Linked DNA regions of Homo sapiens. The protein of the gene in region 2 interacts with the protein of the main gene of each other region in a biochemical or structural test. Each region holds a gene or a part of one and is shown on either strand. Other genes may lie near its edges.

Region 1 (7,630 bases), on a different chromosome or scaffold from region 2:
TCTACCCCTGCACTTGCTGGGTGACCTTGAACAAGTCACTTGACCTCTCTGTGTCTTACTTTTCTCACTTAAACTGGGAATAGTAACAGTACTTTCATCGTAGAATTATTGCAAGGAATAAATGAGTTAATGCCTATAATCTTTCGGAACATATCCCGGCATAAAGTTAGCCCTCAGAGATTATTTTTTATCAACATTACAGTCATCCAAAGGTTAGTTATTCTTCTTTCAAAGATACAAGACACAGACTAGATGTGCCCGGACACTGATGTACTCTGAGATGACTTTACCAATGTCCCCGAGAGACTGCATTTGTTTCATTTTATTCCCCTGAAAGCAGCACAGCATTGCAATTCTGGTTAGTAAAAGGTTCTGGGTATTTGGGTGGAATTTGTCGTACGCAGCCTGCGGGGATGAGTTTTAAAACTAAAATGTTTTATTTTAAATGAATAGATCACAGGGAAAGCTTCACATCATCAGATTCGTGTTTCTGAAACTTCCCTCATGAACTCTGCCATGGCTGTGTGCCACTTTTGCTATCAATTACTTGATGGACTTGGTTTTTAAATCATTTTTGTCTTAAGCAGTAAAAAATTGTAAAACCATTTGTTTCAAATGCTTTTTATATCTTTTCCAAATGCATAATAAGATAGAGACAGAACTCTAAAGAAAAAAAATGTCCATGTACATTTCAAGTTAATGTGGAAAGGGTGCCCACATCATTAAAAAGAAGTCTGCCCTTCAGAGACTAACAGATTCTTCCAGAATGTCTAAAGTCCCCAAACGGTAGCTACCTGAAGAACAGTAAGGAATGTGCCTGGGGCAAGTAACTTTCATTTTCTCCCCTTTCTTTGAGTACTCCTGGGAATGGGTCCAATTCCACAGTACCCTAAGTATTCCACTGTCATTTTATTTAAGTCGTATAACAAATCCTATATAGAAGGTGTCTGCTCCATGGGCTGATGAGGAGATTGGGGCTCAGAGGGCTCTTGTGATCTGCCCGAAGACACACAGCAGGTTGGTGATAGAGGGGACCCCATACCCTCTCCAGGAGCTGCCCAGCCTCAGACAACTCTGTCTCATGGTCCCACACCATAGCCAAGGGCCTGGCCTGGTCTGAGGAGGAAGTCACTTCATTCCGGTTGGCAAGAAATGGCAGGGATTCTTGAAGGATTTCATCCAGAAAAGGATTTTGCAACCCACTTACGTTACTTTTTCCATGTGCTGTTCAAGAAAAAATCTACTGGTTCTCAATGGAATGTGGGGTAAAAGGCCACAGCAACTCAGGCTCATTGAGGATGAAGGATGCTATTGAAATGTAAGAATAGATCATAAATAACTGGTTGGTCAGGGGAGTCTCTCCAGTCCACCATGATTGTTTGTGACCTTGTTCCAGGAGGGCTGTGGGTCATGTGGTACAACAGGCCCATGCTTTGGGTCACACAGACCTGGAATGGAATGCCGCTGGGCAGTCACTCGATCTGTCCAAGTCTCAGTTTCCATGTTTGTTAAATGGACACATGTATATCATGTATTTTTTTTTTTTGAGAGGATTAAATGAGCTTTGTGAAAGTGTCTGTCACATAATAACTCCTGTGAGCCATTTTTATGTCTCCTTCTTCCCTCCTCCATTCTCCTCCCTGAATAGACTTTTTTTTAATTTATAACTCTCAGAGGCATACCTGTATACTTTAATTTTTCAAAGTCCCAGAACTCAGGGCAAGTTTCATTCATTAGGTAACAGCAGAAGATTAAAACATCCATGGGGAGAGCTAACCGTTCAGACTCCCACCACCACTTTATGCAGTAGGAGGACTGTCTCTATTTTGTGAATAGGGAAACTGAGGCAGAACTAGGACTTGAACCTAGGAATTTGGGCTCCCCATTCTGGATTCCCAGTGATACAATCCGCCATCTGTAAAACCTGGTGAAGACTACAATGTTACAACTTAGATTAGGTTTGCTCATATAGCATATCAGATCTGGAAGGTTCTGAGTGGGCACCATTCAAAGCCAGGGTTGGGAGGGGCCGTGCGTCTTTGGCAGGATCGAGTAGCAGGAGAAAAATGAGAAATATTTTGTTTTTCTTTTCCAATTCATTAAGGCTTGTTGAGGGGAGCAAGAACCTCATTTTTTTCCTTCCCATTACTTCCCTTTTATTTTAGGGGAAACATGCATTTCAAAGACTGCTCAATAGCAGCGTTGAAGTCTCAAGTTCAATCACAATGTCCCCATTGTGGCTGGGGGACTCCCTGGCCTTTAAGCTTGGGTTATAAAAATTTGGTCTGAGCCCAAAGTCTGGCTTTAATAGAATATTTTAATTTTGTGTAATGAATATTATTTTAAATCTGTTTGGCAGTTTTAAAATGTGTTCTTTTATTTTCAAATTAAAATTTACTAATGTTCAGTGCTTTCTTGGGGGTGGGGGTACAGCAAGAAATGGGGGTGGTAATAATACAAGCTACCATTTATTGAGTGCTTACTATGTGCCAAACACCCTGCTCTGTGCTCGGTGTGCCAGCCACTCTTTTAAGCCTCCCAACCACCCCAGGAACAGTTAACTGCTGTCTCCGATGTCTGGGACGTTGAGAGGGTCAGACCCCTGCTGGAGATGGCAGTCCGTGAGTGATGGACTGACTCAGGCTCAGGCCAGATCTGTCTGAGTCCAGGGCCTGTGCTATCGACCACTGCCCAACATTCTCTCGATACCTAAAATGACTCAACTGATCAATAGCTTATAGACACCGCACTGATCCAGTGCACTGTTCCCCATAATCTCAATAGCTAGCTCATTGAACATTGAATGGAGGCAGGCAGTGTAGCAAAGCTAAGTGTTTTCCATGTATCGCCTCATTTATATTCTCACAATGGCACTATGAAAAGTTATTTTATTATTGTTGTTACTATTATTATTATCATCCCAAAGAGTCTAAGTAATTTGCTTCAGGTCAAATTCATAAATAATAATAATAACTGTAGCTGACACTGATATAATTCATACCACTTGCCAGCCGTAGTTCCAAACACTTCATGTTTATTAACTCAATCTCCACGATAGCTTTCTGAGGAAGGTGCATTATTATTCACCCTGCTTTACAGACGAAGAAACTGAGGCACCGAAAAGTCTGGTAACTTACCCCCAAGTTAAACGCAGGAGTAGGTTAACACTGAGGGGAAGTGTAACCTGAGCAGCCTGGCTCCTGGACTCAAGCTCTTAATCTCGAGGCTGAAAGTCAGTACCCAGGCTGAGGTTTGGAAAGTCTGATTCTCTACATTCCTCCTCATTCTGCACAACGCATTGAGGGAAGCAGAGAGTTGCTGTCGGCCGAGTAAGCCTGGGGCACTGGTAAGTCCTATATGCCTAGTGCGGTTTCAGGTGCAGAAGCCGAGGCACTGCTCTTACTGAACCAGGCATAGCTTCTGTGGGTGAGGGTCTACAGACTGAGGTGTTGCTTCCATTCTGCTGCTCAAACATTAGAAAGCTCAAAAAGTCATGTCAACACCCTCTGCACCCTCAGGAAAGAAGAGGCCATGGGATACTGGTGAGAACACATTGGGATCCTCCTACCGGAGATGCTGGATTTGGTCCTTCTCACCTCTGGCTCTCCAGTAAACAGCCCAGAACACAGCTAAATAAGTGTTGTTAAGTAAATGGATGAAGGAATGAAGTCACTTGTAATTTTCCCCTATCACTGTGCAATGTGTCAAGCACATTGGAGGCACCTGATAAATAATAAATCATTGAAATGGTATACGAAATGTCCCAAGTGCATGTTATTTCTGGTCTACAAGGATTGTCTTGTCATATTGCAATAGCTTAGAGGTCAGCAAACTTTTTCTGTAAAGGGCCAGATAGTCTTTGCAGGCCGTATGGTCTTTGTAGTACGGCTGTTCAACCCTGCGGTTATAGGGCAAGAGCAGCTGTAAGCAATGACTTAGGCCACTAACTGCAGTGATGCTACGACCATTTCCATAGGTCCAGCTTGAAACATTCATTCATTTCTACAAGGGCAGATTCAAAATCTTGTGAGAATCTGCTGGCGTCTCTTACTTTCTCAACCTGATTTTTGTACCTAACCATCGATAAATATCCATAAGGCAATGCAAGTGGAAAAGGACTTTAAAATCTAGCTCTCCAGGGCAGACAGATGGAGAAAGGGAAGTTCTTGTTATACCACGGGAGCAGGCTGGACATCCTAGTGGTTAGGAATCAAAACTGGGTTTAATCCTGGCTCTGGCATAAGCCATGTGATCCTGGACAAGTTACTCTCCAGACTCAGTTTCCACATCTGTAAAATAGAAATAATAATAACAGCACGTTCCATCTACTGCCATTTGGAGACAAAACATATAAAGTATTTCCACAGCACAATGCCTGGGACATAATAAATATTCAATAAATAATAAGTGTTCAATAAAACCTGTGATTCCCAAACAAGTCTTACAACTCTGTGTTTTCTTAAAAACAAAAGAAAATCCCCAAAACTAATTCACTAAAAATAAGCACAAAGGAATGACAGCAAGGCTACAGGAAGACATTTCCAAAATCGGGTCCCAAGGTGTTAGAAAAATTGTCCACTCTAGATCAAACCTCTAGCAAACCCCCAACCTCTCTGTGCTTCCCCCTCAAAAAAAGCCTGATTCTATGTCCTTTTATCAGTTTGTCTTTCTTGTGGGTGCCTGAGCAATGCTGAGACATTTTGAGCGTTTTAGACATTTGCTGAGTTTAAGGCATTCTTTCTCCCCTCCTACCGGTCTTCTCTCCACACCCCAGCCATTAACTCCTCCAGGGAGTATGGTCTGTTTAGCAAGAGGAGAGCACTGGACAGCTTGGGCCCATCGCAGACCGGAGGTGAATCATCTTCGGGGCTCCATTCTTTTTCATGTCTGGACGGGGCTAAAACTCTGTTGACAACACAGGCACAAGTCACAACTTGTTATACCACGTGACACCTTCCGAGCAGCGGAGGCTTCCCTCTACTCTAGGAGTCACACAAAAGGCCAAAGGTGCACGATTCTCCTCGGGGCTCCTTCCTCTCCGCTCCCTTCCCAACCAAGAAGGACACGCAGAACTTTGCTGGAGAGATCAATGTTTCTAGAACACCCTGAAACAAAAGTCCTGATATGTGCAAATAATACACACCCACAAAAGAAAATAACCTCTTTGCGCTGACACCCTGCCTCTCCGAAGAGGACGTTTTCTCCCTACTTGGAATTTCCATCAGCACCTGGGTTGGTACCAAACTCAGGACGTGGTGGACACGCTCTCTGACTCTGTATTTCAGGAAGCTGCCAATCAATAGAGATTTAAAGGTGAGTACTTATACCTTGCATCTTAAATGCTAGAAAACATAGTGGGAACAAAAAATTGTTTTGGAAACCATGAATACCTTAACCACAAAGTGACTATAGGAAGGGAATGGGAGGTGAAGAAACTGACCAGAAGGAACATTTTCATTTCATTTTATTTTCAGCTTCTGACTTCCGCATATCCGAATACCAGGTAGGAAACATCTGCTTTGGAGTAAGAGAAGGCCCCAGTACCTGCTTTTTCTCCGGAACCGTGAGAGGGAGCCATGGGGAGGAGACCAGAATTTCAGCCTTCCTATCTCCCTTTACCACAAGGACGCCTTGAGGACCCAAGTCAAATTGAGATCTTTCAACCACGGGCTCGGAAACCCGCTTTCTGTGTCCACTTCAACCAAACACGTCTAACAGGCAGGAATTTAGAGGTGGCCAAGGTAACGAGAACTAGTGGTTTTCACCCTGTTTGGTGACCTTCATAGGGCTTATTTATGCACTTCAAGCGCATGACCTAATACATGTTGGTTTGGCTTCTCTTCTCGTAATAGCAGCCTGTAAAAAGCTTTTGAGAATTCCCCGTGTTTTCTCATTTTGGGTCAAGAAAATAAAATCGATATCTAAGTAACCTTAAAAAAATGGCCTGCACAATCTAAAAATTTGGAATGTTTCCACTAGGACTAAGGATATCTCTGAAAGCCTCAAAGATCATCAAAATGAAGTCCAACATTTGCTGTTTTTAAGGTGAGATATTTGGTAACGGAGTATGAGAGAACTGGCTAAGGGGGCTTTTTGACATAAGTCAAACAATGACATTTAAAACTCACGTAAAAGCAATTACTGTGTGGAATTTTTCTGTGTTTTTCTCATTTCTTAAACAGAAGTGTATATGTTTTCAGCATAGCTTCTTGCTGTAATTTTCTTTCTTGACAAACCCACATCTTACCATGAAACCCAAAGTATGCATGCTGCAGAAACAATAATGGTTGAAACAGACCCGGCTGTCTCTGGCATGATTTTTCTTTACAAAATTAAAATGTCTTTTGGCTAATACACGTGTATTTCAGTTATGAAAGGCCATTCTTGGGAGATGAATAGAAAAGAAAGGGGAACTGACAGATTTAGCTGACGCGAGACAAAAGTAAGTTGCCATATACAGTAGTCAAACCCTCCAGTTCCTCATTCTTTGGGGAAAAATATGTTGATTTTATCATTTTTCCTTTAGTTACATTAGCAGAGAGTTGACAATTCTCCTCTGAATGACTGCAAGTAGATACGTTCGTATCTATTACATCTGGGAACACAGACTTTTAAAAAATGTAACTTTACTAGATACTCAAAAGGAAAAAAGAAGAAGAAAGTGCAATGCCATTGAAATTACACACATTTTCATGTTACTGACACAACACTATTGATACCAAATGACAAAAGAGTTTCTAACCTCTATTACATACTTTGTTCATTTTTAAAGATGTTTAAATTGGCATTGCGGCGCGTCTAAGTTCCTGTTTTAGATTTCTGCATATATCTGAAGGCAGAGGCAGACTTTTCAAAAATGCACGAGCAGGCACAACTGTGTTCTGACTACTATCATCCAAAGGCGATGACAGCGCTGACGAAGCCCCTGGATCCTGCCAAAGTTTGTCCCAAAGACGAGTCTCTCAGCCCCCACTGACCCGCAGCCTGCTGGTTCCAGATTCAGGCAACCAGTGGCCTCCCTTAACGTTCAAAGAGGCAAAGATAAATCATTCCAGCTACCTGACTCTCGGCACCACCTGTTCCAAATTATTCTTTGCTCTCCAAATGTTTAAAATCTAACCCGAAACAACACCCACCCATAGCGATCCAGCACCTTCCGGTAAACTTGACTTGGGCTGCGCCTACCGTAATGTTTTAGGGCCTCTCCACTGCCGGTAAATTTATTGACTCTTTTTAGGACCTGAAATGCGTAGTGTTAGTATCGAAGGAATAAATCAAATTAGCCCTTAAATAAACCGTCATTTTCCTTTACAGAACCATACCCAACCGGTTAAGGGTCATGGCTCACAGAGGTTTGTATTTGTGTTCCTGAATATTTAATATGATTTTGTTTCCCCATTTCAAACGACAGTGGCAAAAAACGTCAGGGCAGGTTCAGAAAATAACTGTGTTCTGTGCATTTAAAACCATCCAAATTCAGCATCTTCCTCCAAAGGAAATGATAGCAGAAATGTTTTGAGCCAAAGCTTGTATTGCACATGGATAAGGCATACTTTGCAGAGAAGCAAAAGCGTAGATTTCATTTTCACTCAGTCTGGCCCTGTGTCGGTCATTTGACCTGCGACTCAGT
Region 2 (7,460 bases):
CGCAGGCAGGGGCAGCAGGAAAGGCCCGAGGAACTGGGGCGGGGACCGGGCCTGGGGGGCGCCGATGTCCTTCCGACCGGGCGGCAGCAGCCTTTCATCTCCTGCCAGTGCCGGCGGCCGAAGCTACGGGGCACTGGCAGGTGTGCGGGGACGGGGTCCCGGGTCTCTGGCTCAACCCTCCAACCCTCCCTCCCTCCCCGCCTCCGCGGCGCCGACCCCGGCCCGCCCTCTGCCCAGGCCGCTCTGTCCTGGGGCGGCCGCGGAGCCGTCGCCGCCTCACAAAGCTGCCTTTGTGTCCAGCGGCCTCCGCGGGACCCGCTGACGTCAGCCTCTGTGACCAGCCAGGCAGGGCAGAGCACGGGCGGCGGCGCCCCCTGGCGGCCGGAGGCGGATGCGCCAACGCCGGAGCCCCACCCAGTCGAGGCCAGCCTTTCCGCGAGCCCGCCCCCACACGTTCAGGCCGCGGCTGCCCCCGGGAGAAGGTCCAGGCGCCTCGATGGCACTCAGGGCCCGCCCCACAAGCATCACCAGCCTTGCCATCTGCAATTCCCTTCCCCAGAAACGCGCGGGCCCTTCCCACAGCCTCATGGAGCCTTCCATCTTCAGAGTCAATGATCTGCAGCTCTCCAGGCCCAGCCTGGGGCAACCATCACATGGTAGTATGGCCACCTGTCACTACCCTTCAGGTTTGGCGGCGGCCCTCTGGGGCAGGGAACTTTCTGAATATGTCTTAAGGCCCCTACTGGCCTTTTTAGTCAAGCCAGGACTGCATGCGGCCCACCTGGCTGTGTGGCCTTGGCAACGGACACTCTCAGGCCTTGGTACCTAAGTCGGAAGTCACTTTCTCCTTCCGCGCTAGAGAGGCCGGCCACCCCTCCTGCTCCAGGTGTGGAAGAGCACCTTACAACAGCTCCCTTAGAAGCCTGCCCAGCTGCCCGAGACCCAAGGCTGCAGAGTACTGGAAGGGCGGGGACACACGGGCCCCACATGTATGCTGCCTAGTCCAGGTGGGAGAAATGAAGCTCAGAGCGTGGGGCTCCAGGACGGCCCGGAAAGCTGAGTCAGGGCCCTGACTCAGGTTGAGGACTGAGGTTAGGACCACCATCACCTTGGCACACCTTAGCCCAGGCCTCTGCCCCTGGGAGAGAATACCCATCAGTTCTCGGTATTTTTTTTCTTTCTACATTTTATTATTTCAAACCAGGTGAACAATTCCATAAAACATGTGAAAAAAGCAAGGAAGTGTTCAACGCTGAAGGCCCCGGGCCTGGGACAAGGGCATGAGGGGCGTGGCCCCCCAGCAGGCAGCGGCGGTTCCTAGGTTAGCGCTAGGGAGCTACATTTTAGGTTAATAGAGCCTGGGGCCAGGGCCGCTGGGGCAGGGCCCTCAGTGACGTTGGCAGTTGTCTGGAACAGCCCTTGGAACCCAATTCTGTGGAGGGCAGGGCAGGGGTGCCGCTCGCACGGGGGCGGCCAGCAGAGGGACGGGTGTAAACACGCAGACACACTCAAGGCACGGAGTCACTTGGAAGGGGGGCTGGGGGGGGGCTTGCTGGTCAGGATCTGACAGTTTTAAATAGTTTTTCTCTAAAAAGTTTTCTAGATTTGCAGTTTTTTTTTTTTCCTTTACTTTCATTTTTTTAAAAAGCTACGAGAATGAGCAGGTGGACTGTGGTTTCCAGGAATGGTGGCGTCTCACGCTTCTTGTGCTTTTTCCTTTGGGGCCTCCGAGCGGCTGGGGTTGGGGGACTGGGCAGGAGGCTCCCTGTAAACATTTGGACTTGGGCTGGGGCAGGGGCTGGTGTTGGGCAAAGCTGGGGGTCCAGGCTGGAGAAGCAGGGGCCCCTCCAGACGCAGCCTTGGGAGACTCAGCATGTGCCCCCCTCCCCTCATCACAGAACAAGACAATGGTTAAAAACCAGAACAGATGCCCAGAAGGGGGTACCATGGCCATTACCAGCATCTCAGACAAGGGCAGGCTTCAAACAGGGAGGCCTGTGGCAACCCCTCCCCTACGTCTGGAGCTGAGGGGACAGGGGGAGCTGAGAACAAAGAGAGGAAAGAGGAGAAAAGCGGCGGGGGAACAGGCGGGGAGCGTGATCTTCTTGCCCCCATCTTCCTCAGGGGTTGGGGGGTACAAAGTCGGCGGTGGCCCTGGAGGTGGGGGAAAGCAGAGCATGGATCGGGAAGCAGCCAGGGCGTGCCTCTCTCCCGCCTCCCTAGACAATGACCCTTCTCTATTTTTCCTACCCATTTGTTACCAGGGACACAGTTGCCGCCCAGGAGCCAGTTTCTGTTGCTGGGTTACGTGGGGGAGGGGAGTCTGTGGCACTGGGAGAGTCATCCCCACCTCCACCAGGGCCAGTGGGGCCAGCCTAAGCCCGGGACGCTCAGACAAGTCAGAGGGCAAGAGCTGGAGGTGCACATGGAGCTGGTGGTAGTGGGCAGCAGGGCTGGGCTCCGCTGGCATGCAGCTTCCGGCAGGCTGGGCCAATGGCCTGGTGGGTGAGGAGGTGAGATTTCTCCAGGGAACATCAGGATGGCCTCTGGTTCTGTCCCAGGGCAAGGCCAGGCCCTTCTGTCTGGACCACTGGGCCAGGCCTGCTTGTATGACCTCCTCCATGCCCTGCACCTCACTCACTTGACCTCCTGATTCACACCCTGGGCCTTCTCCTCCCTTGTCCCCTGGTCACCTATTGCCCCTCCCCCTCCAGGTTCACCCCCCTACCCACCCCCAGAACCCCCTGCTGGGGCTCCAGGCCCGCTTAGTTCTTCCCCAGCACCCTGCCACAGCCCCTCTGGCTCACCATCCCGCCAGGCCCCGCTGCCCCTCAGAAGAGGCCGCAGTCCTTCAGGTTGTTCTTGATGATGACATCGGTGACGGCGTCAAACACGAACTGCACGTTCTTGGTGTCGGTGGCGCACGTGAAGTGCGTGTAGATCTCCTTGGTGTCTTTGCGCTTATTCAGGTCCTCAAACTTACTCTGGATGTAGCTGGCTGCCTCATCATATTTGTTGGCCCCTGGGGGAGAGAAAATGAAGACTTGTGCTGCATGTGTGGCAGGCAGGCCGCATCCTACGTGTGCAGCAAGGGTCTGTGCGTGTGGACGGCCAGGCATACAACCTGTGCATGCATGTGCATAATATGACAATGTTTGTGGCTGCCCATACATGCCAGATGTGCAAAGGGGTACCCCACTGTGTGAAGGAGGATGCCCATGTACACATGTTCAGGGGTACATGCTTGAGTGTGTTAAGGGCTTCATGTGTGCACACACAACTATACAAGCCTAAGTGAGGCACCAGCCCCTGCCAGTGTTCCAAGGTTACACTTCTGTCCAGTGGGGGGCGCCTGAGGGCCACCTGGTCACCATAGGCTACTTGGGACAAGAAGCAACCCTCTGGAGGCCCTATCCCCACAGTCCCCACACCTGTGTACTCAGGGAAGCAGATGGTCAGGGGACTGTGTGTGATCTTCTCCTCAAACAGGTCCTTCTTGTTGAGGAAGAGGATGATGGACGTGTCTGTGAACCACTTGTTGTTGCAGATGCTATCGAATAGCTTCATGCTCTCATGCATGCGGTTCTGGGGGTAGAATAGCAAGGTCAACGCTAGCCACCACTCCCCAAGCCCGCTGCCCCCACCCGCAGCATTCTCTCATCCTCTCACCATCTCCTCGTCCTCAGCTAGCACCAAGTCATAGGCGCTCAAGGCTACGCAGAAGATGATGGCTGTGACGCCCTCAAAGCAGTGGATCCACTTCTTCCGCTCAGACCGCTGACCACCCACATCAAACATCCTGCAGATATAGATCACCTTAGTTCCAGGAAGGGAGCCTGGGGGAGGCTTTCTACCCCATTTCTCAGGTTGGCTGACTGAGGACAGAGGCCTGCCCAGAGTAGGGCAGCTACCTTCTGGAATCATCCACACTTGCCCACTTCACCCCTGGTTCTGGGCCAGGAGCTTGGACAGCAGGCAGGCTGCAGCCACATCAGGCAGGAGCAGCAGAGGCTGTGAGCAGCTGGCAGAGGTGGCGTGGATCCTGACTGCTGGTTCACTAGGTGGTGAGGATGTGCTTGCCCAGAACACATGAGCCTTGTAAAACCTCAGTGGGGCTGGGGGATCCTGGACCAGCCCCTGCCTCTGCTACCCCAGAGGCTGGCAGGTCCTGCCCCTCCCACCTGTCCACATGCTCGCTCACTTGAAGTGTAGGTCCTTGAAGGTGAAGTGTGTCTCCACGATCCCCGTGGTCTTTACGCGGGTCCGTAGCACATCTTGCTGTGTGGGGATGTAGTCACTCTGTGCAATACGCTCCAGGTCGTTCAGGTAGCTGGGGATGGGGGGTGGGAGGGTCAGTGGGGGCCAGCATGGGGCTTCCTTAGCTGGACCCTGGGCCAGCTGCAAGAGGCCCCTTCCCTCCCATGCCATTTCTCAAGCACAGCCCTTGCTTTTTTTTTTTTTTTTTTTTTTTTTTTTTGAGACAGAGTGTTACTCTGTTGCCAGGCTGGAGTGCAGTGGCATGATCTTGGCTCACTGCAACCTCTGCCTGCCAGGTTCAAGCGATTCTCCTGCCTCAGCCTCCTGAGTAGCTGGGACTACAGGCGCCTGCCGCCCAGCTAATTTTTGTATTTTTAGTAGAGACGGGGTTTCACCATGTTGGCCAGGATGGTCTTGACCTCTCAACCTCAGGTGATCCGCCCACCTCGGCCTCCCAGAGTGCTGGGATTACAGGCGTGAGCCACTGCGCCTGGCCTAGGCACAGCCCTTGTTTCTTTAACCCCTGCCTGCATTACCTCATTGCTCAAATGAAGAAACCTGAACTCAGAGCCCCCGGCCTCCCACCTGTAGAATGGGAATGGGAGGAGGTGCAGCTCTGTGGACAGCTAGCCAGCCAAGCTCCAGCACCCAGGGTCTGAGCCAGACCTGCCTCGGACAGGATCCAGGATGTTGGAGCTATAGGCAAAGAGGGTGGGAGGAGGCAAATTAGTCCTTCGGTGAAGGATTCAGGATGCTAATGGGCGCAATTACGGCATTAGCCGCAGAGCAGCCGGGTGCGGTCCCTCGATGTGGTGCTGGACAGGTTGGGGCCTGCCAGGTCCAGTGGGCTCTTTGCCCAGCGCCCAATGAAATCTGGGTTCCTCAGGGGGAGGGCACAGACACCTGCTTGGCAGGGGTCCCAGGGGCTCCTCATTACCAGTTCCCTTAATTAGTATCAAGGCTACCCCTGCAGGGCCTGCCTCTGCTGCCTGCCTCAATATCCCTGCCATGCCCTGGAGGCTGGTCCCAGGCCTCCAGGCTGCTGCCCAGAGCTGACTTTTCATTCCTGGGGCAAGGCTGCTGGGGCTGGCCCTTGGCTCCCACCAGCACCCAGGCCAAACCAGGCCAGAGGGAAATGATCTCAGAGTAGCAGGGACAAAACAGAAAAACAGGAAGGGCCATGGGGAAGGATGACGCATGTGCTGTGACCCGCATACCATGCCCCGCCCCCTACTGCCAGAGTCCTCAATGTGGAGGTACCATGGTGCATTCCACACCAGCCTCTCCCTTTTCCCCAACAGGTGGGTTCGCCCCAGGGACCCCCTGACTCGCTGCACACTTGGAGGGTTGCTGCGAAGAGGGGCTGAAGGAGCCCTGCTTCCTGTGGTGTTCCAATCCGCAACCCATTCCCAGGGGGAGCTATCAAGGCTTAAACCTGACTGGGAGAACAGGGCCTGTATTCACTCCCAAAACTGTGCTGGGCACACAGTGGGTGCCTAATGTCTGGAGAATAGAGAAAGAGGATGATGGAGAAGCAGGAGGTGGCCTGGAGGTGGCTCTATTCCTGCTTCCTTTGAGTATCATGGGCACCAAGGTCCCTGCTGCTCTGACCCCAAGCTCGCTGGTGGCTGGGCCAGAGATCTCAGGGAGGGGCAGTGGTGAGGCCTGGGGGCCCCCACAGCATTTGGCTGTGACTCCACAGCTCCTGTAGGGGGTACATATTCACAAGAGCATTCAGGCCATGTAAGAAGGGTAGGAGGAGGCTGTTCATGTGGCTTGGACAGGGCTCAGGAATCACAGCCAGGCAAGACCCTCCTCCTCCTCCCACCCACCCTTGCTGAAATCCACCCTATGGGTAGGCTCAGGATTGGATGAACAATAGGAGCAAAAGGGTGTTCCAGTCAGAGGGGACTGGCTTAAGCAGAGATAGGGGAAGGCTAGAGTACAGGGACAGCAGCCTATCTGGTGACACCATCCAAAGCCTGTGGATGTCCCCTGCAGCCATCCTCAATGGCTATTAGCCTGTCTATCCTGTTCCCCGTGGGGTCCTCAGCACCCTGCACCAGTCCAAGTACATGACAGATACCACAGGGAAGGAGTTCAGAACTGTGGAAAGGGTGCAGGCTTGTCATGCCTCTGGGATTCCTGGGACCCCTTGTAATTCCTCAGCCTAGGGCCAGCGAGGGTCACAGCTGAGGTCCAGGGGCTCTGACCTACACACACACCTGTCACCTCCCAGATAACTTCCTCCCCTGTGGCCCCCTCCAGCCAGCCTCCACAGCCTATGTTCAAGCACAGCCAGCTCCCCACCACCCCGAGATGCTGCACATGCTATGCCCCTGCCTGGAATCCCCTCATCCACTCCTCCCCTGGCTGACTCTCCTTCAGAGCTCAGCAATCCTGTCTCTGGGCCAACTCCACCTCTACCTTTTCACTAACACCCTAAATTGTCACTGCATGGGGACTTTGCTCCACTCATCACTGTGTCCTTGAAGCCTGGCACAGAACAGGTGGCAGCAAATGTTCTGAGTCTTGCTCTGTCACCCAAGCTAGAGTGCAGTGGCGCAATCTCCGCTCACTGCAAGCTCCACCTCCCAGGTTCACGCCATTCTCCTGCCTCAGCCTCCTGAGTAGCTGGGACTACAGGCGCCCTCCACCACGCCCGGCTAATTTTTTGTATTTTTAGTAGAGACGGGGTTTCACCGTGTTAGCCAGGATGGTCTCGATCTCCTGATCTCACGACCCGCCTGTCTCAGCCTCCCAAAGTGCTGGGATTACAGGCGTGAGCCACCACGCCCGGCCGCAAATGTTCTTTAGAAGACTGTCAAGACAGATCAGACTCAACTGGCCTGGAAGAGATGTACTGTATAAGCCACCTGCCTGTCATTCCTCCTGGCCTTTCAGTAACGTGACACCCACCCACCCCCCAAACCAAAAAACAGGAAGGCCTTGGTTAACAGTCATCGGTTTCATAAGCAAAGACCAGCAGTGTCCTTCTGGGGGTTCTCAGGCCCTCCGGTCCAGCCTTTAGTCCTCCCCCAGCCCCTGCCCTGCCCTGCCCAGCCCCTCAGAGCACTCACTAGGCAGCTGAGTCGTTGAGCTGGTATTCCCTTGAGCGGCCAAAGCAGGCCTGCACACCATGGTCAGCCCAGAGCCTCCGGATGACGCCGGACAGGTCATCAGGGAGCACGCCTTGCTCCTCG
Region 3 (8,258 bases), on a different chromosome or scaffold from region 2:
GTCATCATCTGATCCTTTCTTCTCTCAGTATTTTATTTCCCAGCTCATATTATCACAGCTCTAAGAGACAACTTTCTAATTTAGAAAACGAATGACCAAATCCTTCATTTAGAACACAAATGTGAGAAGGCCGGTGCTTGGGCAGCTCTGCGGGGCTGTGTTTTGTTGCGGGAGCCCTGGATGTATGCTCAGCCCCTGTGCCTCTCAGAGGGCTGGGGGCCCCACATACAGATACCTTGCTCCGATGTGCCTGGATAAGCACTGAGGGTGGGTTTTAGGGACCGACTGGGGAGAGATGCACGTGGGGTCTGAGTCGACCGTCTGTGGGGCACTCTGGTCATGCCCAGCATCCATTTGTGCAGCACAAACTTTTTCTCTGGGACTGTCCGCCCCCCAGGTTCTTGTGGTATCGTAAAGACGACCACAGTTTCGAGATGTAGGAGTGAAATGGACCGAGGCTAACCCAGTGAAGTTTGCGGCTGGGTTAAGGAGTGAGTCAGGGAGATGCGTGTTTTCTCCATCATGACTGGGAGAGGAGTGCTCATTTGCCGGGAGGTGAGGGTGACTGTGCACCTCAGCCGCCAGCAGGAGCACCAGAGAAGCCCTGCTCCAGCCCTGCTGACGTCTGGGCCTGGGCCACCAGCCGGTGCAGTGAGCCTGGACCCCAGGAGTGCCTTTTCCAATCCTGACAGACAGCTGCTTAATGTGGGACATTGCTTTACTTTACGAGTTGAAAACGCCACCCTAGCAGCACGGAGCACCTCCCAGGGGCTAAACCCTGTATCATGACTGAATGCGCCCATGTCAATGAATTCTAACATCTAACTCTACATTCTGCCTCCCCTGAATCCAACGTTCTTTGGATCTAGTTCTGCATTTACCCCTGGCTCATGCTGGTGCATGCATTTTGGTCCTGAAGCTCCTTGGCCGACTGTCTCTTCCTCAGTTTTTAGCCTCAGCACTTCTCCAGCTTGATGATGCTGACCTGGAGGAGCTGAGCTGGAGGTGGGTGGCAGGCGTGTCGCCTTGCAGAGGTCTCTGCAGTGTCTTCAAGCACAGAAACAGCATTTGTCCTTAACAGACAGAAATGTGACACCTCTTCAGGCCCAGCAGATTTAGAGGAATCTGGGATTCAAGATTTTTGAGTGCATTCATTCAGATGGCCCCATCGCAAGCCTCTCTTCTTCCCAGTCAGGGCCTCTCTTCTTCCCAGTCAGGGTCCAGAGCTTGGAACAGCACCTTCCGAGGCCGAGCACCCGAACCTGGAACAACACCTTCTGAGGCCAAGCACCTGGCCTTCTCTGGAGCTCTGCCTTCTACACGGTTAAGTCCTGGCCCTGATCCAGTGTTTTGGTTTTCCTCTGGTCACAGGAGATGAGTGTCTTATGTGGCACTGAGGAGGCCCGTTAGCGTGCCACCCTTTTGTTTCAGGTGGTGATCTTTTCATTATCTTGCCCTCAACACGAGCCACCTGATTCCATAGTCCATGTATCTGTGACTTTCCCGAACTCTCCAGCACCCGAGATCCTGCCGCTGCCAGTGCATTTCCTTCCAAGGGGCTCCCGTCCTGGCTGCCACTGCTGCAGTCTGGAGATTCACTCCTGACCCCAGCTGTCGCCTGGAAACAAACACCAAAGCGAGATCCGCGTTGAGTTTATCAGCAGGCCTGTGAGGGTGGAGGGATGGCAGAGAAGCAGCTTTGTGGCTGGGCTGCCACAGAGGACTCCACTGGTCCTCGGAGAAACACAGGAGCCGGCTTGCTTCCAGTGGCTCCAAACGGAAGCATAGTCTCCGTCGTAAAGCAGGGGTGTGGATGGCGTCCACAGCACCCACTGCAGACGCCACCCAGGGCCAGCGCTAGACGCAGAGGCTCTGGGTTGGAACCAGGGGTGCCGCCTTAACCTCCTGTTCTGCCCCAGTGAGCACCAGGCTTGCAAGGGCTGAGGATGAGAGAGGCCCCTGTGGCTGCAGGCTCCCAGCAGTCAGGGGAAGAAAGGCCATTCATTCTTTCAACGCATGGAACTGCTTTTTAGGAAGTGAAGGTAAGCAGTGGAAAAAAATAGGCCTCTATCTTCATGAAGCTCCTGTTCCTCTCCATGCAGTGTGTGTGTGTTTGTGTATGTTCACGTAGGTGTGTGTATGTATGTTTAGTGTGTATGTCTGTGCATGTGTATGGGTAGTATATGTGTGTGCTGTCTGTGTTGTGTGTATATGAACATATGTGTTCATGTGTATATGTGGTGTGTGTATGTAGGGTGTGTGTATATGTGTGTATATGTATGTGTGTACACGTGTGTAGTATGTGTGTGGTGTCTGTGTGTGGTGTCTATGTGTATGTATATGTATATGTAGTGTATGTGTGGTATATGTATGTGTGTATATATGTGTAGGGTGTGTGTGTGGCACTGGGTGCAATGAAGTTTTGCAACATAGAGGAGGGAGTGTAGTCTCAGTTCATATACACACCTACAGTTCATACACACACACAAACATACTCCTCAGAGAGGAGGTCAGGGAGGAGGAGACCTCGAGACAGAAGAAAGGGAGGTAAGGGTGGTACCTGCCCATGCTGGGGTCTGCAGGGGGACTGGGGGGGGACCTGCCCATGCCGGGGTCTGCAGGGGGACTTGGGGGGGGACCTGCCCATGCTGGGGTCTGCAAGGGGACTTGGGGGGGGACCTGCCCATGCCGGGGTCTGCAGGGGGACTTGGGGGGGGGACCTGCTCATGCCGGGGTCTGCAGGGGGACTGGGGGGGGACCTGCTCATGCCGGGGTCTGCAGGGGGACTGGGGGGGGACCTGCCCATGCCGGGGTCTGCAGGGGAACTGGGGGGGGACCTGCCCATGCCGGGGTCTGCAGGGGGACTTGGGGGGGGGACCTGCCCATGCCGGGGTCTGCAGGGGGACTGGGGGGGGACCTGCCCATGCCGGGGTCTGCAGGGGACTGGGGGGGGACCTGCCCATGCTGGGGTCTGCAGGGGGACTTGGGGGGGGGACCTGCTCATGCTGGGGTCTGCAGGGGGACTGGGGGGGGACCTGCTCATGCTGGGGTCTGCAGGGGGACTGGGTGGGGGAGACCTGCCGGTGCCGGGGTCTGCAGGGGGACTGGGGGGGGACCTGCCCGTGCCGGGGTCTGCAGGGGGACTGGGGGGGGACCTGCCCATGCCGGGGTCTGCAGGGGGACTGGGGGGGACCTGCCCATGCCGGGGTCTGCAGGGGGACTGGGGGGGGAGACCTGCCCATGCCGGGGTCTGCAGGGGGACTGGGGGGGGGAGACCTGCCCATGCCGGGGTCTGCAGGGGGACTGGGGGGGGGGAGACCTGCCCATGCTGGGGTCTGCAGGGGGACTTGGGGGGGGGACCTGCCCATGCCGGAGGTCTGGGGTGGGGGGCTGTGTGTGCGTGTATGTGTCCCCGCCCCCCTCGTGCGTCTGCAGCAGGTGCCTTCGGATCGCATCTCAGGAGCTGGGGCTGGGCGCGGGATTCCTCCCCTGCCAGATCGTTGTACGTGAACTTCTCTTGGCAAAGTTCGTCCGCGAGTCAATCGCTCAGCCTCGCTCAGCGGGCCCGGGCCGCGCCGGCGACCTTCCTTCGTCTCTTCCGCCAGGCAGCCCGCTGGGGTCCCTTCCGCTCAGCGGCCAATCCGCGGGGCGGGGGCGGGGGCCGAGGCCTCGGGGGAAGCCGATCCCTGCGCCCCCCGGGTCTCCGCCACCCGCCAGCGCCGTCCCTGCCAACCCCGCCCCTGCAGGGCCCGGGCCAGTTGGGAGCAGGGGCCGGGCCGCGGGCGGAGCCTCCCGGTCCCCGCCCTCGCCCTCGGCCAACTGGCGGTCTTGCAGGCGGGCGGACCCTCGGCCGCGCTCGGGGCTCCGGCGCCGCCGCTCCTCCTGCTCGGCCTGAGCTGCCCGGGCTCGGCGCGCGCTTGGGGCGAGGCTCGGCGGGCGCGGACGCGCAGCATGGCGGTGGAGGACGAGGGGCTCCGGGTCTTCCAGAGCGTGAAGATCAAGATCGGTGAGTGTCCGCCGGCAGCCACGCGTCCGACCCCCCGGCCCGACCCTGTCCTCTCCCGCGCCCGCCTCCCCTCCGCAGATCCTTGCTGGGGACCCCGGCGGAGACGCCCTCCAGGCGCGGCGCGCTCCCCGGAGAACGGCTGGTCCGGCTCCGCGGCCCCTCCCCACCTCCCCGCCTCCCCGGGCCTCGGGCTGGGTCGAGTCGGCTCCGGGGTAACGCGGCTCCCTGCGCCTCCTCTGCGCCCGGAGCGGCCCCGGTCCCTGGTAGCGGCGGAGGAGGTGGGGTCCCTGCGCCGAGGGACGTCTGTCCGCGTGTGCGCCCGAGCGTGTGCCCCGCGTGTTTGCAGGAGTGCGCGCGCCTGAGGCTGTCTGGGCGCCTGCACTTCAGGTGTCAAATCCACTGACGTCGGGGTCTCGGCATCTCCCTTTCTCCGCTGCGCCCAGAAACTTCCTTTCCGGGGAATGTGGAGGCTCCTTCACGCTTCTCCCCAGGGGCGTGAGGCCCCGGCGCGCTGCTGCTGCTGTGCGCGCGCGTCTGTGCCTGCGTGCGCGCGTGTTTGTGTGTGCTTGTGTTTGTGTGTCCATGTGTGGGCGGTGTGTGTGCGCGTGCGTTTGTGGGTGCATGTGTGGGTGCGTATTTGTGTGTGGATGCATGTGTGCGCGCGTGTGTATTTGTGTGTGGGCGCGTGTGTGTGCGCGCGTTTGTGTGTGTGCATGTGTGCGTGTGTGCTGGTGGGGCGTTCTGGCTGAGGGCTCCCGCGGGGCGGGGAGACCCCGGACCCATCGGCACCACGTCCCTTTCCACTGAGAAGTGGCGGGCGAGCTGGTGGCGACCAGGGCCTGCGAGGCTGCGGTTTTTCTCTGGGCTTCAGCAGCTTCTGAAGTGGGCTCCCGGAGGCGTTTCCGGAGAGGAGGCTGTGTCTGGACTTCTGGTTTATCTGGAGGGATCTGCTTTTCCCTGGTTGTTTTATCTTGGGAGAGTGATGTGGAAGTCCTCCCCCTCCCCCAGAGCAAGACCGTTTCCTGGAGTGACTGTTCCATATTCATGCCATGAGTGTGCTGGACCACAGCGCGGTTCAGGCTGGAGAGGCTTCCAGGGCCTGCAGTGTCGCGGTCCCCACGGTCCTTCTCCCCCACTGAGCCGCACTTCGCAGCCGGCCTCTTCCCGTGTGAAGAGGCCTCCGGGAACGGGCTGAGTGTCAGTTGTTGATGACATTTGATGCTGCCGGAGGCATTCCAGCTCCCCTAAACCAGCGGGCTGTTTCCTGTCGGCTTTATTTTGGTTTGCGGATCATCGCTGAGACACTGTCTTGATATTTGGCCCAGAAGCGCTGCAGCTAGGATGTGGCAGCACTTCCGCTTTGAGTAGTCCAGAGAGGAGGGATTTCTTTTGTTAATGTGGTTTAAATCCGCTGTCACTTTCATACAAGAAAGCCAGAGCTGGCGCTCCCTGAAGTGCCTGAGGTCGCCTTGCCTGGGTGGGGAAAGGTCGCGGCCCGTGGGGGTCAGTTTGCTGCTCTTTCCTTCAGCCAAGGCTGCTTGGCTCAGCCAGCGAGTCTGAGGAGTGTGAGAAGCACTGGGCTTCCTCAGTCACGGGGGCAGGAGGGCTGGAGGTGGGTGCCCCTGTGGGGCAGTGCCAGGTCTCCAGGCAGCAGGCAGAGGCGGCCTGGGGCTTTGCGGCTCGGGGGTGGGGGGCCCACAGCCGGCACAGCATGCTCGCTGTGTACTCCAGGAAGGGCTACACTTCAGGCCACGGCAGGACTTTACAGAAGGCATGGGAAGTAGAACAGGAGGGCGAGGGAAGACCAGAGTCTCAGACCAGATACTCAGACCCTGAGTCTCCCAGAAGGCAGCTTCACCGGCCTGCGGGCACTCGGCCCCACTTCCGACAGGCGTGGGGGTCAGGCACCCTGGAGGATCCCTCGGAGAGAAGGAGGTTTGGAGATGCCACAACTTGGTCAGGCTCTGTGCTCCACTTTAAACAAGCCAGTGAAACCCTGGCTCAGCTGAGGCTTAGGCTGCTAATCCCACGTGGGGCCTGGATATCATCTGAACCTTTGACCCTCCCAGGGGCAGCAGCAGTGAGGACGGGTAGAGAGGCCCAAATGCCAGCTGCCCGACTCTCTGGATGTGGCTCCAGCAAGAAGTCCCCGTTTCCTCTCCCCTCCAGAGGTCACCTGCAGGGCTGGCTGCCTGAGGGGTATCTGTGCCCCAAGTAGCTGGGGAGACAGGGCACCTCCTGCATTTGAGCAGAGATGCAGTCTGGGCTGGAGACCCTGAGGGTGACCTGTGGGTGCGCTGGTTTGGGGTTAGTCTCATGTAACTGTGCTGCTGGCCTGATACCCCGGGGCTCCAGCAGAAAGCCCATCTGTAGAAGCGAAGTGGAGGATGACCCTGAGCGGCGCTGGTGCCAGGGGGCCACTGAGCCCCTCAGGCTCTTTCTTTAATCCACATTCATGGCCAACCTTGGCTCTGACTTGCCCTGCCTGAGTCCCTGGTCTTGAAGGCTCAGACAAGATGGTGCCCCTGTGGTTGATTTGAGGGCCCCTCGCTGTCATTCACCTCTGAGCCTTGTCTCCAGGAGCGCTGGATTTGCCCATGAGTCTGCCAGTGACTTGCTGCATGACCCAGGGCCCGTGTCTTCCCCTTCATAACCTCATTTTTCCGTTTGCAAAAGCCAGGCAATTATTGTCTACTACATCCGGTGGGAACGTACAAGGCAGTGTTGTTCAGGGTTAAGTTAACACCCTGCCCCCTCACTCCCAGAACAAGAATTGTCCCTAAAGTTATACCATAAGCAATTCTGCTACTACTCTTACTAAGAAAAAAAGCCAGCACATTTCTGGGGGGATTGGGAGCTTTTTTTAAGGTATAGGGGCATTGGCCATTTAAATTCTTAAATAGCTTTGAAATGTGTGGTGGTGTGTGGCCTCATTCAGACGTTGACATTGGGAAAAATGGAAAGAATCTCTTCCTCCTTTCCCCCTTCCTCTTTCTTTGTCCTTCCAGCTCTTGCAGGTGAGGTAATAAGAGGAGAGCGCCACGTAGAAGTGAGGTGCTTTGGTGGTAACAATTTGGAGTCTTTGTCTTGAAGAATCTGGCTTTCTGCATTTCAGTTTTGTGGAATCATTTTGGATATGTCCTTCTGTGCACTTAAACATCTTAAACACTGTGTCTTTTGAAACAGTCATTAACCTTTCACAGTAGAGTCTGTGTATCATGCATGACTGAGCCACACTTCCTATGCGATCGCTGCTTTGAGGAAGCCTGTGCTTCGGACTTTCCATGAGTCAGGGACCCACAGGGAGGGCACTTCCGCCACGGCCACGGCGTTGTTTTGGGGCCCCCGCCCCCAAGGCGTGCAGTGCCTCCTCCCCTCGCAGTGATGTCTTCCGTTTCCACAATACTTACTGCTTGTTTTTAAATGTGGCGCCTTATCTTGATACATGTGTTCAATAAAGAGCAACACACAAGGTGTTTCTCTCAATCTGTTACAGAAAAAAAAAAAGCCAGCCCCGCGGTCCAGGGCGGGAAAGGCTCTCGCACCGCGGTGACCCTGCCGTCGAGCTGGAGGCGGTCAGCGTCCGGGAATGCCGTCCGTGGGAGGCCGGGCCTGCCGTGGGCTCCCCGCTGGGGCTTCCTGTGGCTCTCTGGTCGCTCCCTTCTTTCTCCTCTGGGCTCAGTGCCTGTGGCTCCGCTGGGCTCTTGCTCCCTTCCTGTGAGGCTGGAGCTTGTCCGTGAAGAAGACCCACGGCCGGTCTGGCCCAACATTGAACCGCTGGTGCCTGCAGGCCTGTGGGGCAGTGAGGGCCAGGGGCTGCCGGCCTCCAGCCCCAGCTATCCCTCTCCTGATCACAAACAGAATCCCACCTGAAGCAGGAGGAGGTGGCACCGGGTGAGAATAGGGAGAATGACAAGTGGGGTGCCTGGAGGGTCCCCTGGACTGTGCCTCCCTGGCCCCAGCTCCTGGGCTAGAAGGTAAGGGCTCCGGGCCCAGCTCTGCTAGAAGTGGCAGCTGACACTCTCAGCCTGATGGACTCCCTCACGGGAGGTGGAGGCCGCTGGTCACAGGGCTGTTACAGGCATCAAATTAGGTGATGGTCTGTTTAATAAGAGAAAGTAGCAACAGTGTCTTCAGAGGGCTAGGGCTCACTCAGGTAAGAGAAGTGTTTTGTGAAGGTGAGGGAGGGATACTGGCCACGCCGTGGCTTTCCCCGTGTCTGTCTGACAGTGTAAGGAGGGGCTGTGTGGCC
Region 4 (8,342 bases), on a different chromosome or scaffold from region 2:
AGATGTATGTTTCCTTCTAATAAATACTTATATTATAAAGAAATTAATCCCAGTCCTCTTTTTTTGTTGTTGTTGTTTTGTTTTCTTTTCTCCTTCTCTGACTGGTGAGGAGTCTAAAGGGCAGTGCAGTACCAAAATGTTGAATATAAGAGGAGATTTTAAAATAAACACATTTGGGGGACATGAATTATGGAAGCAAGTTTTACACAAGTTATTGTAATTAATCTATAAAGAGCATATCTGAAACTGAACCAAAACAATCGGAGCAAGAAAGTGAGTACGGGGCAAGTTTGACATAGATTTGGCAAGAATTTTAACAATAGTTTAGAAATTGTTGTATACTGGGGCTGGGCATGATGACTCACGCCTGTAATCCCGTCACTTTGGGAGGCCTAGATGGGTGGATCACTTGAGGTCAGGTGTTCGAGACCAATATGCTAAAAATACAAAAATTAGCCAGGTGTGGTGGCCTGTGTCTGTAATCCCAGCTACTCCAGAGGCTGAGGCAGGAGAATCCCTTGAACCCAAGAGGTGGAGGTTGCAATGAGCTGAGATTGTGCCAGTGCACTCCAGCCTAGGCTACAGAGCAAGACTCTGTCTCAAAACACAAAAACAAAACAAAACAAAACAACAAACAAACCAAAAAAACAAAAAAGAAAACAAACAAAAAACAGCAAAAAATGAATTGTCGTATACTGGAAATGAAGAAAAGTGAGTACAGTAGTTGAGGAAGGCTGTTTAAGTTACTTTTCCCAAAAACAGGAAGTGATAGTAGCTAGTCTTAGAGTGAAATATAAGGAATACAAGTTAAACTTTGTCAGCACAAACTTTCTTACCATAACTCTCCATTCTCATTGATTACATCCTTAACTAAGTTTAAGCCTTGATTTCTCTACCTATAAATATTACAGTTCAGAGGCAGCCATCTACTTTCATTGGCAGAGGGAAAGTTTTCAGGTATCATCTACAGATATAGAATTTTTATATCACTAAATTCAGAAGAACATGAAAAGGTCACCAAGACCTTATAAAGAGTTGGACAATTAAGGAAGGGAACAAAACAAAACAAAAATATGTCAGAAAAGAAAAGTTGTTGTTACATTAAATGGAGCATAGTATTTGAGGGTGAATTACAAATATTCCACTCCCAACTGTCCTGGCAACAGGAATCCTTTCTTCCAGTAGACACCTTAAAATTGTGAAAGACACGGGCAACGCTACAAGGAGTAGTTAGAGTAGTCTGGCTAACCTCATCTTGGAAGGGTCTGGGAAGAGCTGGGAAATGATTGTATTTCAAAGACTAAGGTGAGAAACTGGACAAGTTTAAAGTGCAAAAAAAAAAAGCTGTGGGCTTGAGGTGGATGTTTGGTAATGATAAAGCATTGCTTTTTTTGCAGACTCTGACAAGTTCAGGGTGGAGAATAATAAATCTGTGATTACCTAGCTGCATCACCTGCTCAGTTGAGTCTTTCTATCTGAAAGAAAGCATAAAATGAATACAGACAACAAAGTTCACTCACTTGCTACCTTATGTAAATTGACCCTAAAGAGTGGCAATCCAGGGAGCCTGCCTCCTAAGCCATGCTATATTATAACAGTGTTCCAGAGTCAAATGAGGCCTTGATGCTTGTCCTCACCCTCCATCTCACAGACAAAGCTCCACCTTAAATACATACTCGATTCTCAACATTTCTACAAAATTCTGCTTTAAAAATAGACAATTGATATGAAGTACAGAATGAAGAATTTATAAATTTTTTTTAAAACTGTGTTTATGGAGCGGGGCGCAGTGGTTCACGCCTGTAATCCCAGCACTTTGGGAGGCTGAGACGGGTGGATCACCAGGTCAGCAGATTGAGACCATCCTGGCTAACACGGTGAAACCCTGTCTCTACTAAAAATACAAAAAAATTAGCCGGGCGTGGTGGCGGGAGCCTGTAGTCCCAGCTACTCGGGAGGCTGAGGCAGGAGAATGGCCTGAACGGAGGCGGAGCTTGCAGTGAGCCGAGATGGCGCCACTGCACTCCAGCCTGGGCGACAAAGCGAGACTCCGTCTCAAAACAAAAAACAAAAACAAACAAACAAAAAAAACTGTGTTTATGTGGGTTTCCTGTATGTCCATCGAAAGAATTACTTGATATTTTTAATCCTTGAACAATGAAACTAACATGAATAGTTCGTTAATCATGAATTTGATAAAACCGAAGATTTCATTCAAAAATCGGAAAAATTTAAAAACTGAAACTAGCTACAGTATAAATAACTAATATTTCATCCACAGTAGGTAATTCTAAACAAAATGAGAACTTTTAAAAAAATTTCCATTATTTGACTTTTCTATTACTTAGTTCTGTTGATCAGAAAATTGAATTACTGAAAATTAACAATCAGACAAAAATTTTGTGACCTATTGTTTCGGATAATTACATGCATAGTTTGTGTAATTTTCCATTAAGCACACAAAGTATTTGGTGAAAGTACCACTAACCTCTATGGGAAAGCAGTTTGTCAAATGATTCACCCCATTTCACTGCCTCTTCAGGGGAGACTCTGTACAAGAAACAAAATGTTTTATAATGGAGTGTGCAGAAAGTCTGTTTATGAATCTGTTCTAACATATGCTATTTTACTGCTCTTTTCAATTATATTTCACAGTTTCTCCTTTGATTATAATATAATGAAAATTGCATTTACATTAGAAACTTTGAAAACATTGTTCAATTTTCTTTTGGAATTTGTCTGTTGAATAATGTGTTGAAATAACATTATTTTTTTTCTCATGGATATGTGAGTTTTATTTTTTAATTAAAAATTAATCCTTTTTTAGGTTAAAGGGCACAGATAACAAATATAAAGAAATCAGGTCAACTATCTGTTTAAATTCAGCAAGTAGAAAAAAACTAAACTCACAGTATCTTTCAGTTAAAAAAAAATTATACTGCAATTTCCTTGAAGCTGTAACCACACTAGGCTGCAAATTTTTTTTTTAAACGGATACAGGAAGTTTGACTAATAAAGTTTCAAAGGGATAAGAAATATAAGATATTTTAATAGAAAAAATATTCTAGAGATGTTGGTAATGTGGAGAATTGAATATATTTTCTCGGATCTTTTTTATTATACTCTAATTTGGAAGAATTTGTATGAAACTAGTATATAAGGTTTTTGCATTTTCTTTTTGAATTAAATAAATGCTAAGTATTAAAAGACATTATTTGTGCTTTACTTGCTATAATGCGTGTGTTTTTTCAAACTACTGAAGAAAGAGATGAATATCTCTCTGCTATGACAATATTGCATTGTGAAAACTCTTAAATTAATGAGCATTTTATCAGGTTATAAGGAGTAAAACATGTCATTTAAAACTGACAGGTATATAATTTTAAAAGAGCAGCTTTAAGTGTTCACGTGATTATTCAATTCAAGCGATTTAATTCAAGTGATTTAATTTTATGAAATATTTCTAGTCTCTTCAAATGAAATTTCTAACTTTCCTTATATTGCTGTGTAATTTTCAATAAATCAGAAATCCCTAACTGCATTTTTCTTAAATCTTTAATGATAGAATCAGCAAAATCTTCCTCAAAATACTGAAAATTTATTCACCTTGTTTCTTTGGCCAAGTGCCCAGATCTACTGGAGCGGGTGTCTTCATGAAACTCAGGTTTCTGCACAAGAAGACTTAGTCTATTTCTTTTTTCCTTAGCTCTGTAATAAAAAGGCCTTCATGTCAGGACAATTTAGATGACAGTTAAAATCTCTCCTGCTGACTACCAGAAAATTTTGTAGTTGGTAAAAACCCACGCCCACCCATACCCACACACTCATGAATCCCATTTAAATATTGTATTTGTGGAGGAATTAGGGTAACATACGAAAATGTTTCTCCTTTTGCTCACCGACAATCAAGTATTTGAGATTATATTTCAATAAAGATTGCACTAGTTCCTCTATGTGGCTAACATTATTACACTTTTTTTTTAATGAGAACACTTTAGATTTCAGTTTGTTGTTTAAACCTAAGAAATAAAAAGGTGTTTTTTTTTCCCAAATTATAGCAATACAAACAATATATTTTCCACCCAATAGTTCAAAAACAAGAGGTAATGAATCTTCAACCTCAATTATGCTTTTAAAAGTATAAGGCTGACTTAAAATTGTACAATTTTACCTGATTTTGGCTTCTTTGCTTGTTTCTTCTTTTCCTGAACCATGTATTAACTTGAAAAAAGTTTTTTCTTTTGATTCACACATATTTATTTGAGAAAAGAAAAGCAATGTTGTTTCCATCTTCTCTCTAAAATGAAGAGATGTCTAATTTATTACATCCTTCCCTAGTTCATTTATTAATACTATTCCATACATATACATAGTAGAATAAAAAGTTATCACAACTCTTACAGTAATGTTTACAAAAAAGAAGTCAAGAGCTGCGTTTCTTTCTGTCTCTGCAGAAATGCAGAACTGAGGAAATGAAGTACAATTTGGTCCTAAGTTGTTTAGGGAAATGATACCACAAATTTGCAAAATGACTCTTGGTCTCTAAGATAAAGACTAGTCTTACCACAGTGCAACTTCTCGTTCAAGTTTGCGCAACCAGAATGATGCTTTAATAGACTCAAATAACACTGTCATTTCCCACAGGAACTTTTCAAAAAGTTTTTAAATGTGTGGACTGTGTGTTAAAATGTGTTATGGCAAAGTATTATATCAAACATTAGGAGATATTTTCTCCAGTTCTTAAAAAAGTATTTTTCTTATTGTTATTACATGAGTTAAGTAAATCACATTTAACTGACATAAGATTATGTAATGTTAATTACATTGGCTTAACATATTGTAACAAAATAAGACAATAGATCAGAATTTTATGGTTAAAAAAAGATTGTAGAAAGCATTTAATTTAACAGTTTTGGGCTGGGCACAGTAACTCATGCCTGTAATCTGGAGGCTAAGGTGGGCAGATTACCTGAGCTCAGGAGTTCAAGACCAGCCTGGGCAACATGGTGAGACCCCATCTCTACTAAAAATACAAAAAATTACCCAGGCACGGTGGTGTGCACCTACAGTCCCAGCTACTCAGGAGGCAGAGCCAGGAGAATCCCTTGAACCTGGGAGTCGGAGGTTGCAGTGAGCTGAGATCATGCCGGCTACTTCACTTCAGCCTGGGCAACGGAGCAAGACTCTGTCTCAAATAAATAAATAAAGTTTTAAGCACATATCTATAGAATGATTTTAGACATTTTTGAAATTTTTATCAGTCTGTGATGAAATGGAAAAAAATATGAAAAGTTTTTTTTCTTAAAGCTTTATTTTAATTCCTTTGATATAAAGGACTTGCTATTTTGAATTTGCTCTCCTGACTCTTTTGTTGTTAAAATGTTCTTTATAATGTAAAAATGTTCTTTATAATGACATGGATTAAGTAGAGATGGTAGTTTTTATATTTTAATGCCTTTATTAAAAAAAATGTTGACAACTCCAATTGGTTTAGCCTCCACTTCTTTCACTGTTTTATAGAATACAAAAGTCTTACAAATGCAGTTCTAGTCCATAATTCAAATTTTATTGAAAAATAAACCAAAGTTCACAGGCATTAGGTAATTTAATCCTACAAAGTTTCAGAGACAGGCCAGTGGAAAATCTGGAATTATCAGAGCCTTTGATCACCTACTATGTGCTTTAGTCCTTCCAAGAATCTTTGATCTCCAGTAGTGAATGCTTTAATCTAAAATGGTATATATTGAAAGCTGAGTTATACAAACCTAAAAGAAAATTTTATTTTCAGTCTTTTTGAATTATTTTTTTACCAAGACAATTTATCAGGGATACCAGCTAAAAGCTCAAAACATTTATCTATATGAAATTAAAGACTTTCTAGTATATATTTATACATATACCCCCTGATTCCATGACTTGTACTTTGAACATATTTTAAATCTCTCACCTTGGCTGAGAATTGAAAAATATTATGTATGATGGCATTTTGCATTGAGCTTCTGCTGGAAATGGATACTGATAATGCAGATTATGCTTCCACCCTGCTGTCCCCTAGTAATGATTAGTATCCACTGTGTTTATATCAGTTTAATCCTATGAAGGTGAATGAGCACAAGAGAAAATCATAGGAGCATGGACATCATCCAGTCACTAGGACTATAACTTAACTGTTAACTCAGAGAAGTTAAAGACATAAAATCAATATATTATTTTTCATAAGATATGTTAAATTTATGTGTGAAGTGTGCTATACACAATGCTGATAGAACCGTGGAAAAAGAAATTGTGAAAATACGGGCACAAGTTGCCGGGCACGGTGGCTCATACCTGTAATCCCAGCACTTTGGGAGGCTGAGGCAGGTGGATCATGAGGTCAGAAGTTCAAGACCAGCCTGGCCAAGATGGTGAAACCCCATCTCTACTAAAAATACAAAAATTATCCAGGCGTGGAGGCAGGTGCCTGTAATCCCAGCTACTGGGGAGGCTGAGGCAGAGAATTGCTTCAACCCGGGAGTCAGAGGTTGCAGTGAGCCGAGATCATGCCACTGCACTCCAGCCTGGGCGACAGAGTAAGACTCCATCCCCCTCACAAAAAAATAAAAAGAAAAAGAAAAGAAAATATGGGCATAAGTGAACTACTCCACAGGTCTGTGTAAAGTTCTGAAACAGAATTGGAAAAGAGAGGTTTGGCTCTACTCTGCGTATGTGGTCAGTTAGGAGCTGGAACCAGAGAGGAAGAAAAAGGTGGATTCTGAAGGTGACATCAGTTAAATATCATTCTTTTGGGCATGGTCAGTTATTATTTAAATATGTATACTTTTAATGATAAGGATTTATATATATATGTGTGTGTGTGTGTGTATATATATATACCCACGTGTTTCCCTTTTCTAGCTCTCTTCACTCCTTTGTGCAGGCCTGGAATCCTTTTCCATTAGCATAAAGACCTGTCTTCAATATTTTCTGTAGTGCATATCTGCTAACAATAAATATATTCAAGTACTGATTTTCTGAGAAAAATTTTTTTTTGTTTATATTATGAAACGGCTAAATCAAGCAATTTAACATATGTATTATCTCACGTGCTTATTGTTTTATGGTGAGAAAACAAAATATATGATTTTATGAACAATTTTCAAATATATAACATATGAAAAAAGTGTCTTTTTCCCCATCTTCCGTTGGAGAATATTTTCACCAGAAAGAATTATAGGATGATTTTTCTTTTCTTTAGGACTTTAAAAGATTTTACACTTTTGTCTTCTGAACTCCATTATTTCTGTTGAGAAATCAGTGCCAGTTTTCTATGTTCTAATATGTCTTTCTTCTCCTGTGACTACTTTTCAAACGTTTTTATAACTAGTTTTAAAACTTTGATTAAGATATAAATGGTGTTTGTTCTACTTGAAATTTGTTGAGCTTCCTGGTCTTGTGGGCTTTAGTTTTTATCAAAGTTGAAAACTTTTAGGCACTAGTTCTCCATTTTTTTGTTTCTCTTTCTCCTATCTTCAGATATTCCAATTACAGTATGTTTGACTCCTTAACACGGTTCCACTGGTCATTAAGGAACTATTCCATTTTTTTGGCCTCTTTTCTGTCCCTTTCTCAGGTTAGACTGCTTCAATTGCTGTGTCTTCAAGTTCATTAACCTCTTCTTCTCCAATAGCTAGTCTGCTGTTAAACTTGTATAGTAAAATATTCATTTCAGCTACATAAGTTCCATTTTTATAGTTTGCATTTCCTTCCTTATTATATTCTTGTTGGTTTTATATTCAAATACTTAAAAATATTTATAATAGCTGTTTTGAAGCCTGTTCTGAAAATGCATCTCTGTAATTCTGGGTCTGCTATTATTGACTGATTTTTCTGCTAATGATGGCGTATTTTCCTGCTTCTTCAGATCTCTAGTAACTTTTTATTGGATGTTGGGCATTTTGAATTTTATGATGTAAATATTCAGGATTCTTTCATTCTCCATTTAATGATGATGAAGTTGGTCTTAGCCAACAATCAATTGTGTATCACCTCCGTCTTAAAGACCTGTGTTTAAATTTGTTATACTGGATCTAGGGTAGTTTTAATTACTAAGGTATAATGATTCTTAAATCTCTAATGCATTCCCAGGGTGTTCGATAAGGCTTTTCTGCTTTAGATGATAAGAGCTTAAAAGTACCTGAACCCGGTATAATCTCTGTAAATTAACCCACATCCCTGGTGGGAATCCTTTGTCAGTACTCATGCAGTTTTGTTTTTCATCTGAGCTGCTTGGTATTCAGCTAGACTCAAAAGTACTCTTATATAGTATTTTTAGACTTTTTCTAGTACTTTGTCTTGTAAATTTC

The links.
Region 1: the proteins of GNAI2 (region 2) and EYA2 form a complex in vitro, tested with the Homo sapiens proteins (one study listed by BioGRID).
Region 3: the proteins of GNAI2 (region 2) and RASA3 form a complex in vitro, tested with the Homo sapiens proteins (one study listed by BioGRID).
Region 4: the proteins of GNAI2 (region 2) and RGS18 form a complex in vitro, tested with the Homo sapiens proteins (one study listed by BioGRID).

Annotation. Positions count from the first base shown.
Region 1 is NC_000020.11:46,899,110-46,906,739, reverse strand, and holds part of EYA2 (protein phosphatase EYA2), read right to left. Parts: intron 6,353-7,630; exon of another isoform or gene 5,475-6,352; intron 5,314-5,474; exon of another isoform or gene 4,992-5,313; intron 1-4,991. UniProt on the Homo sapiens protein: Functions both as protein phosphatase and as transcriptional coactivator for SIX1, and probably also for SIX2, SIX4 and SIX5.
Region 2 is NC_000003.12:50,253,062-50,260,521, reverse strand, and holds the end of GNAI2 (guanine nucleotide-binding protein G(i) subunit alpha-2), read right to left. Parts: coding exon 7,338-7,460; intron 4,331-7,337; coding exon 4,202-4,330; intron 3,800-4,201; coding exon 3,670-3,799; intron 3,586-3,669; coding exon 3,432-3,585; intron 3,023-3,431; coding exon 2,832-3,022; 3' UTR 2,808-2,831; intron 2,155-2,807; 3' UTR 1,160-2,154; downstream 1-1,159. UniProt on the Homo sapiens protein: Guanine nucleotide-binding proteins (G proteins) are involved as modulators or transducers in various transmembrane signaling systems.
Region 3 is NC_000013.11:114,128,183-114,136,440, reverse strand, and holds the start of RASA3 (ras GTPase-activating protein 3), read left to right. Parts: upstream 1-3,817; 5' UTR 3,818-3,951; coding exon 3,952-4,006; intron 4,007-5,437; exon of another isoform or gene 5,438-8,258.
Region 4 is NC_000001.11:192,154,586-192,162,927, reverse strand, and holds the start of RGS18 (regulator of G-protein signaling 18), read right to left. Parts: upstream 4,467-8,342; 5' UTR 4,291-4,466; coding exon 4,172-4,290; intron 3,709-4,171; coding exon 3,607-3,708; intron 2,551-3,606; coding exon 2,489-2,550; intron 1-2,488. UniProt on the Homo sapiens protein: Inhibits signal transduction by increasing the GTPase activity of G protein alpha subunits thereby driving them into their inactive GDP-bound form. Binds to G(i) alpha-1, G(i) alpha-2, G(i) alpha-3 and G(q) alpha.